Linked DNA regions of Homo sapiens. The protein of the gene in region 2 purifies or fractionates together with the protein of the main gene of each other region. This does not show direct contact. Each region holds a gene or a part of one and is shown on either strand. Other genes may lie near its edges.

Region 1 (8,487 bases), on a different chromosome or scaffold from region 2:
CCAACACCCCCCTTTCCCCCCACCTCCCTCCATCTCAAAAATAAATAAATAATAAAATAATAAAACTCCATCTCAAAATAAATACATAAATAAAACACACAATGGGACTTAAACCTGCCTCAGTTTCCCCCCCCAGACACCTCAACTAGCTGAGCTCAGCACTTGGTTTGAGATAGCTTGAGTTGGGTCCCCGGCAGTACTGGGCTGACCCGCAGTCCGTCGCTCCCCCTCTTCCTCCGCGGCCTGGTGGCAGACACCACCTCACCTGGCACTCCTGCGGTCTCACCTGGCTCCGGCGGCGGCTCTCCGGAGGGCGCTGGCCCCATTCCCCCCACAGCTCGTGCACCTTCCCAGGGCAGGCCGGGGCGGTGGGGGTCACCCCACACTGCATGTGGTCTATCTGCAAGGACAGAAATGGTGGTCTTCAGAGCTGGGGGAGCTGGGGGAGCTGGGGGTCGGGGTGGGGTCCAGGACCACTGATCTGGCCTCAGTAAGCATTTAGGAGACCGAGGCAGGTTGTGCAGGGCCGTGGGGAAGACTTGGGCTTGGACCCCAAGGGAGGTGGGAGCCATAGAGGGCTGTGGGTAAAGAAGGGACAGACCTGACTCAGGGGCTCACAGGTGCCCTCTGGTGGCTGCTGCGGGGAGGGAAGAGCTGAGGATGGGAGGATTCTGATGAGGAGGAAGGCTCTCTTCTGACCTACCCTAACTTGCTATAAATTCCAGCTTCTCCTTCCCCTCTTCCACAAAACCCCTCCCTGACTCTCCAGGCAGAGCCATGACATCCCTGGGCTCCTCCAGGCCCGGGTCCCCCAGCCCTGAACACATGCAGCTGGAGACAGCTGCACCCAGCTCCGCCTCCTGCTTTAGGCTAGCACGGGATCCGGTATTCAGCTGGTGCTCAATCCATACTGATTGGCCTGCATCCCGGAGCAGGGGCGGGCAGCGGGCTCTCACCAGCTCCAGCGTCTCCTGCAGCTGGGCCAGGGTGTCCTGGGCACGGTGTTTGCTCTGCCTCAGTTTCCCCACAGAGTGCTCGTAGGCCAGGTGGCGGATCCGTGCTGACAGGGAGCCGAGGCGCACAAAGTAGCCCTGCTGTCTCCTCTGATCCTCCACCGAACCCACTTCAGGGCCTTCAGCCTCAGCCGCCAGTGCCGCTGGAGGACAGGATACGGGGACAGCACGGGGACAGGATACGGGGACAGCACGGGGACAGGATACGGGGACAGCACGGGGACAGGATACGGGGACAGCACGGGGACAGGATACGGGGACAGCACGGGGACAGCATGGGGTCAGCACAGCCACCCACCCCCTCCACATCTGCTCACCCACCTCTGGGTACAGAAGCCACAGGTTCCCACATTCACAGTTCCCCTTGACTGACATCAACCCATTTGGTCTTCCCCAAACCCTAAGATGTAGGCACTATGGTGGGCCCTGTTTTACACAGGAGGAAAACTGAGGCAAAGGAGAGGTGAGATCCTGCAGGATCCAAGAAGCAGACCCAGATTGGAACCCAGGCACGTTGGTCCCAAACTGCTTAACCATTTTTTTTTTCTTTGAGATGGAGTCTCGCTCTGTCCCCTAGGCTGGAGTGCAGTGGCACTATCCCAGCTCACTGCAACCTCTGCCTCCCAGGATCAAGCGATTCTCCTGCCTCAGCCTCTTGAGTAGCTGGGACCACAGGCGTGCACCACCACACCCGATTAAGTTTTGTATTTTTAGTAGAGACGGGGTTTCACCATGTTGGCCAGGCTGGTCTAGAACTCCTGAGCTCAATTGATCCGCCTGCCTGGCCTCCTAACGTGCTGTGTTTACAGGTGTGAGCCATCATGCCTGGCCTGCTTAACCATTCTTTTAAGCAGCCTTTTAAAAATATAGGTTGGGTGCAGCAGCATGCACTTGTAATCCCAGCACTTTGGGAGGCCGAGATGGGAGGATTGCTTGAGCCCAGGGAGGATTACTTTGAGACTAGCTTAGGCAATACAGCAAAAAACCCTGTCTCTAAAAAAGAAATACAGAAATTAGCCAGGGCTGGGCACAGTGGCGTGTGCCTATAGTCCCAGCTGCTTGAGAAGCTGAGGCAGGAGGATCAATTGAGCTCAGGAATTGAAGGCTATGGTTAGCTACGATCACACCACTGCCCTCTAGCCTGGGCAACAGAGCAAGACTCCATCTCAAAAAAAAATTAAAATTAAAAAAATGAATGAAAAATAATAAAAAAAGAGAAAATCCACACAAGATATGGTGGAAAAAAATAAAAAGAATATATCATAGTCCAGGCACAGCGGCTCACGCCTGTAATCCCAGCACTTTGGGAGGCCAAGGCAGGGGGATCACTTGAGCCCAGGAGTTGGAGACCAGCCTGGGTGACAGAACAAGACCCCATCTCTAAGAAAAAAAATTTTTTTTTTTGAGATGGAGTCTCGCTCTGTTGCCCAGGCTGGAGTGCAGTGGCGCAATCTCGGCTCACTGCAAGCTTCACCTCCCAGGTTCACGCCATTCTCCCACCTCAGCCTCCTGAGTAGCTGGGACTACAGGCACCCGCCACCACGCCCGGCCAATTTTTTGTATTTTTAGTAGAGACGGGGTTTCACCATTCACAGGATGGTCTCGATCTCCTGACCTTGTGATCTGCCCTCCTCGGCCTCCCAAAGTGCTGGGATTACAGGCGTAAGCCACCGCGCCCGGCCTAAAAAAAAATTTTTAAATCAGCCAGATGTGGTGGTGTGCACCTCTAGTTCCATTTGTCTAGGAGGATGAGGCAGGAGAATCACTTGAACCCAGGAGGCGGAGGCTGCAGTGAGCCAAGATCATATCACTGCACTCTAGCCTGGGCGACAGAGTGAGACTCCACTTCAAAAAAAAAAAAAAAAAAAAAAAAAAAACAACAATGGTTGGGCGTGGTGGACTCACGCTTGTAATCCCAGCACTTTGGGAAGTCAAGGCAGGTGGCTCACCTGAGGTCAGGAGTTTGGCCAACATGCAAAACCCCATCTCTACTAAATACACAAAAATTAGCCGGGTGTAGTGGTGGGTGCCTGTAATCCCAGCTACTTGGGAGGCTGAGGCCGGAGAATCGCTTGAACACGGGAGGCAGAGGCTGTAGTGAGCTGAGATCGCAACACTGCACTCCAGCCTGGGCAACAAAGTGAGAGATTCTGTCTCAAAAAAAAAGAAAAAAAAATTCAGGAGTGCCTGGCACACAAGAAGTGCCTGATCAATGCCTCACTGCCTTTTTTTTTTTTTGAGATAGAGTCTCGCTCTGTCACCCAGGCTCAAGTGCAGTGGTGCGATCTCTGCTCACTGCAAGCTCCACCCCCCGGGTTCACGCCATTCTCCTGCCTCAGCCTCCTGAGTAGCTGGGACTACAGGCGCCCGCCACCACGCCCGGCTAATTTTTTGTATTTTTAGTAGAGACGGGGTTTCACCGTGTGAGCCAGGATGGTCTCGATCTCCTGACCTCGTGATCGGCCCGCCTCGGCCCCCCAAAGTGCTGGGATTACAGGCCTGAGCCACCGTGCCCGGCCGCCTCCCTGCTTTTCTGCTGAGGTGGGGGTAAGCCCATACATTCTTCCAGTACTGTAAGGCCAGAGTTGGACATTCACATGGTCTCCAGGGCCAGGCAGGTACCAAAAACCATCAAAGTAGATATGACATAAACCACTGGGGACTAGTGGAGCTGAGCAAACCATCTGAAGGAGCAGACAATATTCTGGCTGTGTCTAGTTTTTCTTTTTTTTTTTTTGAAACGGAGTCTCGCACTGTGGCCTGGGCTGGAGTGCAATAGCGCGATCTCAGCTCATTGCAACCTCCACCTCCCAGGTTCAAGTGATTCTCCTGCCTCAGCCTCCCGAGTATCTGGGAATACAGGCACACGCCACCACGCCTGGCTAATTTTTTGTATTTTTAGTAGAGACGGGATTTCACTATGTTGGCCAGGCTGGGCTCGAACTCCTGACCTCATGATCTGCCCACCTTGGCCTCCCAAAGTGCTGAGATTACAGGCGTGAGCCACTGTGCCTGGCAGTGTGTCTGGTTTTTCAAAACAAGCCAAGAATCGGGACATGTAATGCAAAATCTGGTTGTTAAATGCATGCAAAGAATGAAAATATTTAAAACACGCTGCACAGGCATTTGGGGGCCACCAGTTTGGGACCTCAAGTCTAAAAGCCCTATATGCCCTTAGGGTCTGGGTGTTCTGACTCCTGGCGGGATGCAGGTTGAGGGGCCGTGGAAGTGACCGGGAGGGAGGACAGGCCTGGTTTTGAGTTGTATGTTTCCTGCTGATCTGCTGTGTGACCTTGGGTGAGTCTCAGACCTCTCTGATCTGTACCACAGGGGATGGGGACGGGGCAGGACTCAGGGGTTAGGGTTGAGGGTGTCGTCCTCACCGAGCTCTTCCTCCGTCATGGGCAGGAAGTGATCCACCAGCTCCTCTGATTTTTCCAGTACAACATCCACAGCATGGCTCACGGAGCGCTTCAGCTCCACGCTCCAGCGCCGGCCCCTCCGGGCCAGGTCCACCACACCCGTGACACTGCTGGCCACCACGTCCTTGGCTGAGGTCACCACCTGGAAGGAAGGGCCCCCCCACTCCAGGCACCGTGGGACTCCAGCTCCATTTCTGCCACCCTAGTTCCCTGGGGCTGGGACTCAAAGATCCCTGGACTTCTACCTGGCTCCGTGCCTCAGTTTCCCCTATAAAATGGGTGATAAAACCCTTCCCTCACAGAGGGTGTTGAGGGAGTTAACTGCCCTTACTAGCAATACATATGTATACACACATACATATACATATATACACATATACACACATATACATATATACATGTATATATACACATATACATATATACTTATACGTATATATACATATATACTTATACGTATATATACATATATACACTATACGTATATACATATATGTATACACACACACACACACACACACACACACACACACACACACGTTGCAGTTATTTTAACCTGGCTGTTTTTTCTTGAGTTAACTAAAAGCCTGGTTGTCACCATCCCTCCCTCCCTCCCGCCTCTAATCTGGCCTGCCCCCACTGGAGGTCCCCATGTCTAGTCGTCCGGGGTACCGTCTCCGAAGGTTGCTGGAGAAAGGGAAGCTTCTCTTCCAGCTTGTCCAGGCCCCTGCAGGCGAGGCTGTTCATAGTGGCCACTGAAGGGAGAGAGGCGGGGAGTGAGACTCGGGGAGACGCAGAGGGAGATAGGGACGCAGTGAGAGTTGTAGAAGGAGGGAATGCTAGAGAGAGAAGCAGAGACAGAGAAGGAAGGAGACCAGGATAAGACAGGGAGAAACAAAACGGAATGATGGAGACGAGACCCACACCAGGAGATGGACAGGCTTTCTGAGACCTTACACCAAGAAGCCGCTTACACCAAAGACGCTGGGGCAGACACCTGTGGCGCCTGGAGAGAGAGTCTACGAGGGAGATGGGGAGAAGGCCTAGACCACAGGGGGACCTGGCTGCCTCCCTAGGTGAGACTGGGGGCCCTGAGGGTGTGGGTAGGCCGCTGGGTTGGGCACTGCCTCCTCTGCCATCCTGCCTGGGCCCTGCCACCCACCCTGTTCTCCCAGCACCAAGGCGACTTTTCAGCCGTGCCCAGCTCAGATGGCCCAGCGGACAGACTCAAGGTCACAGAAGCTGGCTGAGAGGGAGGTGAGGAGGTGCTGGGCTAGGACCCTCAGGTGACCCTCTTCCTGGGTCAGACTAGAGGCCAAGGATCCTGTAGTCCCCCGCCTGTCATCGGCTCAGGGGTCCACAGAGATGTGAGAACTACAGAGCGGAGGCTGCGGGGCTTAGGACAGGCAGAGGCAGGTGCAGAGGGGAGGGGGCCTGGAGAGACAAATGGACCCAAGGCACATCAGGCCAACAAAGGAGGGGACACAGGGAGACAGATGGATAGGGACAGAGAGGAGGGGCCCCACCAGTAAACAGGTAAGGGCAGAGGGCCAGGGGATCAGATTTATTTATTTATTTTGAGACAGAGTCTAGCTCTGTCACCCAGGCTGGAGTGCAGTGGTGCGATCTCGGCTTGCTGCATCCCCTGCCTCCCAGGTTCAAGCGATTCTCCTGCCTCAGCCTCCCATGCAGCTGGGATTACAGGCGCCCTCCACCACGCCTGGATAATTTTTTGTATTTTTAGTAGAGTTGGGGTTTCACCATGTTGGCCAGGCTGTTCTCGAACTCCTGACCTCAAGTGAGTGATCTGCCTGCCTCGGACTCCTAAAATACTGGGATTACAGGCATGAGCCACCGCACCTATCAGGGGATCAGTTTTTTTTGTTTGTTTTTGCTTTTTTTTTTTTGAAATGGAGTCTCACTCTGTTGCCCAGGCTGGAGCGCAATGGTGCGGTCTTGGCTGACTGCAACTTCTGCCTCCCGGGTTCAAGCAATTCTCCTGCATGAGCCTCCTGAGTAGCTAGGATTACAGTTATGTGCCACCACACCGGGCCAAGTTTTGTATTTTTAGTAGAGACAGGGTTTCACTATGTTGTCCAGGCTGGTCTTAAACTTCTGACCTTGTGATCCAACCGCCTCAGCCTCACGAAGTGCTGGGATTACAGGCATGAGCCACCACACCCAGCCAGATTTAAAAAAAAAATTTTTTTTTTGAGATACAGGGTCTCGCTACGTTGCTCTGGCTGGTCTTGAACTCCTGGCCTCAAGTGATCCTCCTTCCTCGGCCTCCCAAAGTGCTGGGATCATAGGCATGAGCCACCATGCCTGGCTGGTGATCAGATTAAAGAAGGACTTAAGTGAAGAGATTGAGGACAGGTGGCATGGCAGTGGGACAGGTGGCTAGGCTGAAGATGACCCCCAGGAGTGTCATGCAGATAGACCAAGGAGGATGGGACAGGGGGCGGTGGGGGGGTGGCAAGCCACAGCTCCCAGGGACACGGGCCAGGGCACTCACGCTGGGGCTGCAGGTGCTCGAGCAGCGGCTGGGCGTGGTCCAGGGCACGGGTGGTCAGGCCGCACACGCAGTTCTCAGCCAGGCGGCAGGCGGAGCCCAGCAGCGGGTGCCTGTCCTTGGCTGCACTGTAAACATCGCAGACCGCGGTGCACGTGGCCCTGACCAGGGGCAGAGCCACCACACGCTGCACCACGTTCTGCGGGAAGGGTCGGCATCAGGGGGACCCTGGGGGAAGTGGGGCCCTAGCCACACCTCAACCTACTTCCCCTCTCTGGGCCAGGACGAGGGATGGGAGAGTGGAAGGATGGAGTACTGAGCACCCCGCCACGTAGAGGCAGTGAAGATAAACGTGGATGTGAGAATGTCATGGTTCCTGCACTCACAGGCTCCTCTTCCCATGGCGTACACAGAGCATTACAATTTTGTTTGTAATGGGGTTTCACTCTTATCACCCAGGCTGGAGTGCAGTGGCACCATCTCGGCTCACGGCAACCTCCTCCTGGATTCAAACGATTCTCCTGCCTCAGCCTCCCAAGTAGCTGGGATTACAGGTGCCCGCCACCACACCTGGCAATTATATTATAAGAGGGAGTCTCGCTCTATCGCCCAGGCTGGAGTGCAGTGGCACGATCTCGGCTCAGCGCAACCTCCGCCTCCCGGGTTCAAGTGATTCTCCTGCCTCAGCCTCCCGAGGAGCTGGAATTACAGGCATGCGCCACCATACCCGTTTTTTTTGTTTGTTTTGTTTGTGTATTTTTAGTAGAGATGGGGTTTCTCCACATTGGTCAGGCTGGTCTCAAACTACCGACCTCAGGTGATCCACCTGCCTTGGCCTCCCAAAGTGCAGGGATTACAGGCGTGAGCCACCGCGCCCAGCCAATTTTGTTTTTATTTTTATTTTTAGTAGAAACAGGGTTTCACTATGTTGACCAGGCTGGTGTCGAACTCCCGACCTCAGGTGATCCACCCACCTCAGGTGATCCACCCACCTCAGCCTCCCAAAGTGCTAGGATTACAGGCCTGAGCCATTGCACCTGGTCACAATTTTTTTGTTTTCAATAGAGACAAGGTCTTGCTCTGTTGGCCAGGCTAGAGGGCAGTGATTCAAGCACGGCTCACTGCAGCCTAAGCCTCCTAGCCTCAAGCAATCCTCCAACCTCAGTTTCCAAGTACCTGGGATTACAGGTGCACACCACTGTGCCCAGCTAATTTTATTTTATTTTATAGAGATTGGGTCTTGCTGTGTTGCCCATGCTGGTCTTGAACTCCTGGCTCAAGCGATCCTCCCGCTTCAGTCTCCTAATATGCTGGGATTATAGGCATGAGCCACTGCACCTGGCCAAATACTATATTTTTTTTATCTGCATTTGGTTGAAAAAGGTCTGCATACTTCTGTCTCCTGGGTTCAAGAGATTCTCCTGCCTCAGCCTCCCAATTAGCTGGGATTCCAGGCAGGCACCACCCCACCTGGCTTTTTTTTTTTTTTGAGATGGAGTCTCGTTCTTGTTACCTAGGCTGGAGTGCAGTGGCGTGATCT
Region 2 (5,307 bases):
GCCGACCTCCAACCCGTTTGCCTACTGTGGCCAGATTTTTATTACCATAGCTACTGTTTGGTGTGATCTATCTAAATGAAATGAAATTTCCAAATGAATGAAAATTAAGAATTTGAAGTATCTTTTTAATCTGTCTACATGTTCCGACTGAGATGATAAAGAGAAACAACTCCAGAGAATGAAAGATCTGTTCACAATCATGTCTACAGGAACCATTCTCAACCCCTCTAGGGATTAACATCAAGACTTTTTCCTGAGTCTAAATCCCATCCGTCAACTCCTAACTAACCCGCCGTTCTTCCCTGTCATTTGGTGTCATCCATATGGTGTCATCAACAGGGTTTCCACGGGTCTTCAACATCATGCACTTGGAATCTGAAGGCTGACACTGGTCCCCAAAGGCTTGGCTCTAGACCAGCCTCACACAGCACAGAACCGAATGATCCTCCTGTCAAACCCAAGGCATCTGCTCTGGCATCTTGGTCAAAGTCCAAAGGCTGTAATTGCATTATGCCTACTTGTGAGCTCTCCTAGAGTTCCCAATTAGGTAATATTTATTTTCTACCCAGAAAAGGTTATGCCCAACCTTGCTCTGCACACTGAAACAATAAGGGTTCCAACCCAAGTGATAAAGGAGCATCTCAGTGTGACATGAAGCCATCATGAGGTAGGGGCAGGAGGCTTCAACTGGCCTTATGCAGAGCCAGCTAGGACAGCCATCAGCTTGGAACAAACTAAGTATCCCTGAGGGGTTAAACTTGTGCTTTTCTGTGGCAGTACAGAAATAATATGCATATATTTCCACTTTAAATGATTTCTAAAGCAGATGTCAGCAGATGAAAAGAGGATTGAACTCCAGCTCCTTCTCTAACAGCTTTCTGTCAAAATATAACCCACGTGAGGATTTCAAAAAACTAAATTCATTCCAATATAAAGTATGCTGTCTTAATATCGCATGGTGTGTGACTTGTTATATTCCCAGCTATGAATAACCCATAAATGAGGAATTTTGTCTTGCTTAAAGAGATACTCTAATGGTCAGGAAGTTTTATTTAATATGCAAAATTACCTTTGTAAATATCACTAAATGGTGAAATAAAACACGTTCGGAATATCTGAAATGATCCTTCTTTGGATAAACGAGAAAAGGCACACGTTTACAATGCCTCAAATTGTGTCTTATTCAAATGAAGACCCACACACATAATGAAGAGAAAATCTCTAATAATTTATTGACCTTCAGTTTCACATTGTGAAAAAAAAAAAAATAACAGTTTTACAAAACCTCAAAATGTAGTCATAGCAAACAAGTACATATGAACATGAACATTTTCCTTCAACTTATACAGAGTTTTGTACGTGAACCACATGGTCAATAGCCAAGAGAGGGACATTATGCAGCTCTAATCACTCTTATTCAAGACAGGTGTCAAGCCCAAAGAAAAGGGGCTACACAATTATACCAGAAGTGGAGGGCTGCCCTTTGTTATGTGTTTCTACAGCAACCAGCCCACAAAATAAGAAGAACCTTCTCTGTCTTATGCCAAGGTTTTTGTGTGTACTGTGCTGTGAATTGTATTTGCTTCAAAGTGTGGGACGTTTCACAGGGTGAGAATGGTCAAGTAGTGAGACCAAATGCCTATATCGATTCAAAGAGTGGGAGTCCAGAAAGTTCCCTACAGGCTGGGGGCCCAACCCTTACCACAGCTCCCTCTGGCTCACACACAGTAATTAATAGAGGATTCAAGAACAGACCCCAACTTTGAAACAGCTGCAGAAAATTCATCCTGCTTTCAGAAGCCATGCAGTGACACATACATCTCTCTTGGCAGATTTGCATCATAAACTACAGAGCTGTAACTGCTACAATATAAACGACACTGACTATGCCCACTGGGGGACAATTAGACATTTGCATTGCTTAGAACACATCTAGGAACCAGGGACTGACTGCTGGAAAGTACTGTGATTCTTTTCTTCCAACAGCTCATTTATTTAGGCCCAACTACAGCCCACTCATTCATGGCATGGACGGACAAACACAATTAGTCTAAAGTACTAAGGTGGAGAGAAATGTTAAGGATTTATCTGTCATTAGACAATGCAAACACAGTCACAATGTAAAAGGTTGTTATCAGTCTTAACCCCTATTTTCTAAAATACAGCAATGTGAGAAACATGGACGAAAGCAGTTCGAGTTGCAAACTTTGGTCTTCCCCTGCACCTCAGGGGAAGCACCTATCTGAGACTAGCACTAATACCTACGACGGCACATGCTTAGTAAACAAGCACTCCAACTAGCAAAGAATGTATTCACAACTGATTTCCAACTCTACCGGAAAACTTCTCAATAGGGGCCACTGCCTACAATTCTTTGGTGTTTTGTGGCCAAATGTGTTACTTGTGCACCAAAGAGTTTTTTAAAAAGAGATTTGCCTACGGGTGAGCACTGAAGTATACATTGTGCCAATGTAATTATTGTCTTGGAGACCTTCTAGAACTTGCTAAATCATATAGCAAGAAGAGAATGAGTTCAGGCCCAGTAAATCTGGTGAGTTAATTTACATCTGTGATACTGCCGTTTTTCCCATTAAATGTGGTTATGGCAAAGCATTCTTAGGGTAATAAATAAATAAATAAACTTTGGACAATGCCTTTACTTGTGCCCTATATACAGAACTATTCCATAGAATTTTCCAGGATTTCAAGATACTACACAAAGAAAAAAACTGTAAAGCAATTTGGTCCTTTCCAAATTTCAGCAGCTGAGACTGAATTAAGTAAATCAGATGGGAGTGGGGAGAAGGGCAGAAAGCAGCCTCCCCTTACCCTATCAGCACAACCAAACCCCATGAAATCCCATTAAAAGTTGGTGAGTCTGAGAAAAGCGATCTCCACGGTTTCTCTACCTCTAGGATGTCATTTAAATTTCCATTTTGTCATCCTTCCCTGTCTTGACATTTTAAAAATCCACCCCTCCCCAACCCACCCTCCAGTTATGCTCCAAATTGTAACTCAAAAATTTTCATGTTTGTGCAGCAAAGCACATCTCAACAGCCACAAAATGTGCAAAACGTACAACCATTCACACACGTCCATACATGTGAAGACAGCTGTAGGCATTGTTTCAGCATGCAGGCATCGAACAATAAATAGCTAAATCTATAACAAACTTCTTAACAGCCAAGGGAAAGTTTAAAGTCACTTATAAATAGAAAAGAACATCTACCAAATGGCTACCAACAAAGTCCCCATTGTTCAGAAACGTTCCTGGGGAGCAGACCCCTTAGAGATTAACGGAGAGTCCAGTGGTCTTCATTCTTCAGCCAGCCCAGCCAGCTTCCCTCTCGGACCCACAGTTGGGCTTTGAATCTCCAGCAGCAGCTGGTGTGGAGGCTTCAAGCTCTGTCCTCAGAGAGAGGTGACAACCATTTCAAATTCTACACATAAATGGTGGGGCCCATGGAAATCAAATGCTGAATATGGTACAGCAAGGGAAAAGGTCCAGCTTTTCTCTCCCTTTGAGGGGCTGATTAACATTGACATTAATCCACAATTACAAGACAAGGACTAGATCACAGGTTTGTTCATTCATATTTAAACCATGTGCTACTTGCACCAAAAATCCCACCCCCCTCCCTCGCCCCTTTCCTTCATGTCCAGTTAGAGCATTTACAAGGTGCAGCAGATTTTATTCGAGTCTTGCAACTTCTTTTCCTTTTTTTCTCTTCATTAGACTTGGCCTCTCCGAAGTAGAAATCTCATATTATCTCATCGAGTGATGGAGTGAGCTGAAATAGAAGGAAAAGGAAAAAAAACAAAACAAAAAAGCATGAAGGATTTGTGTGATGCCATAGTTTTTAAATTTTTCTTATTAGCCACAAAATTTTTTTTTAAATTAAACTTGGTATGGAGCTGGACAATATTGCTTCCAAAGGTCTTACATGTTCAGTAGGAACTGTGCAAAGATATTTAAAGTACTTGCCTTAAATGCACACACGTGTGCACGTACACATCCATGCAGATGGCTGGCCTGACAAAAACAGTGGTGTCTAAAGAAGGACCTTCACTTCTTTCCTAAGCATACACACTTTCAAATCCAAACCTATATGTCTAGATGCTATTAGGAGTTGCCATCTTCTGCTTCCAACATTCATAAAATTTCTTTCTGTGGTTAAACAGAGCGACTGTAAAGTGATCACTAAGGGGTGAAAAGAAGGGAGATTCCTGTGCAAACCCTCCTTGGCCCATGTACCATGAAAGATTCCAAATTAACTTTACCATCTAGGAGGCAGACATACTAATCCTCTTATTTAAATGCATCTCTGTTATCCATTATGGCAGAAATCAGTCTCGCTTCCTTTCACATGACAATGTATCAGGCCTCAACAGCCCAAGTTTGGAGTTTATTCTCAAAGTTCGTCAGTCCACACGTAGGTGCCAGCAGCTACGGCATGCCAGTGCTACAGAATCTACGTACATCAAGTGTGAATATCAATTCAAAGTGCCGTAACCACAAAGCCTGCACATTTCATAGAGCTTGCATTTCCTCACACTGCTTACTCTTCCCATTTATTTATTTCTCATTTCATCTGGGGAAATTGTGCAGAGGGCTTTTGTATCCCTATTGCTGTAAGTCTAAGTACAGACAAAGGGAATTCTGGAGGAGCCACTCATGACCTTGCACTGAATTCTTTGCTTTTGTGTGTTCAGAAGCCTGATTCATTTCATGAGTTGTTTCTTTTGGCTGTTTCCTAACAGTGATTCAAGCTTTCAAGGCATGCCTTAGACTACGGTGTCATTGCCCCACCTCCACCTCCTTGTAACCTATATGTCAACATTAGGCCAAAAGAATGTATCTTATAATAATATAAAATTTCAAGACAATGCATATTCAAACAGGAAAAAAGGAATACACACACCCTCCCCCCAAAAAATTGCATATTCAAACAGGAACGATAATAAAAAAAAAAAGGACACACAACAACAACAACAACAACAAAATCTAGAGAAGAAACAAAGCAAATCAAAGCCTAAGTTAGGTTGAGGCCACACGGCACCATGAAAACAGAGGATAATCAAAGTAATTTCCTTTCTGCCCTTCCCACCCACTGGCAGAGCAGCAGGAGGCAGATAAAACCTCCTAGGTGGATGAGCTTTAAGACCTAGGGAAACTTTCTGTTAAACACTCTATTAATTCCGTTAGCACCTACATTTGGAGGGCAGAGGAATTTGCAGTTTGGGACTGAGACCCACCTACCCAGCACTTTAAGGCACTCCAACCCCCTCTTAAATGTTTTAGCACTA

What was found. The genes of interacting proteins can lie anywhere in the genome.
Region 1: the proteins of ENC1 (region 2) and PLIN5 purify together in Homo sapiens (affinity purification with mass spectrometry; 2 studies listed by BioGRID and IntAct, with this or other methods). This does not show direct contact.

What each region holds. Positions count from the first base shown.
Region 1 is NC_000019.10:4,524,677-4,533,163, forward strand, and holds part of PLIN5 (perilipin-5), read right to left. Parts: intron 7,147-8,487; coding exon 6,951-7,146; intron 5,191-6,950; coding exon 5,108-5,190; intron 4,578-5,107; coding exon 4,397-4,577; intron 1,157-4,396; coding exon 957-1,156; intron 401-956; coding exon 287-400; intron 1-286. UniProt on the Homo sapiens protein: Lipid droplet-associated protein that maintains the balance between lipogenesis and lipolysis and also regulates fatty acid oxidation in oxidative tissues.
Region 2 is NC_000005.10:74,626,202-74,631,508, forward strand, and holds the end of ENC1 (ectoderm-neural cortex protein 1), read right to left. Parts: intron 3,792-5,307; 3' UTR 1,208-3,791; downstream 1-1,207. UniProt on the Homo sapiens protein: Actin-binding protein involved in the regulation of neuronal process formation and in differentiation of neural crest cells.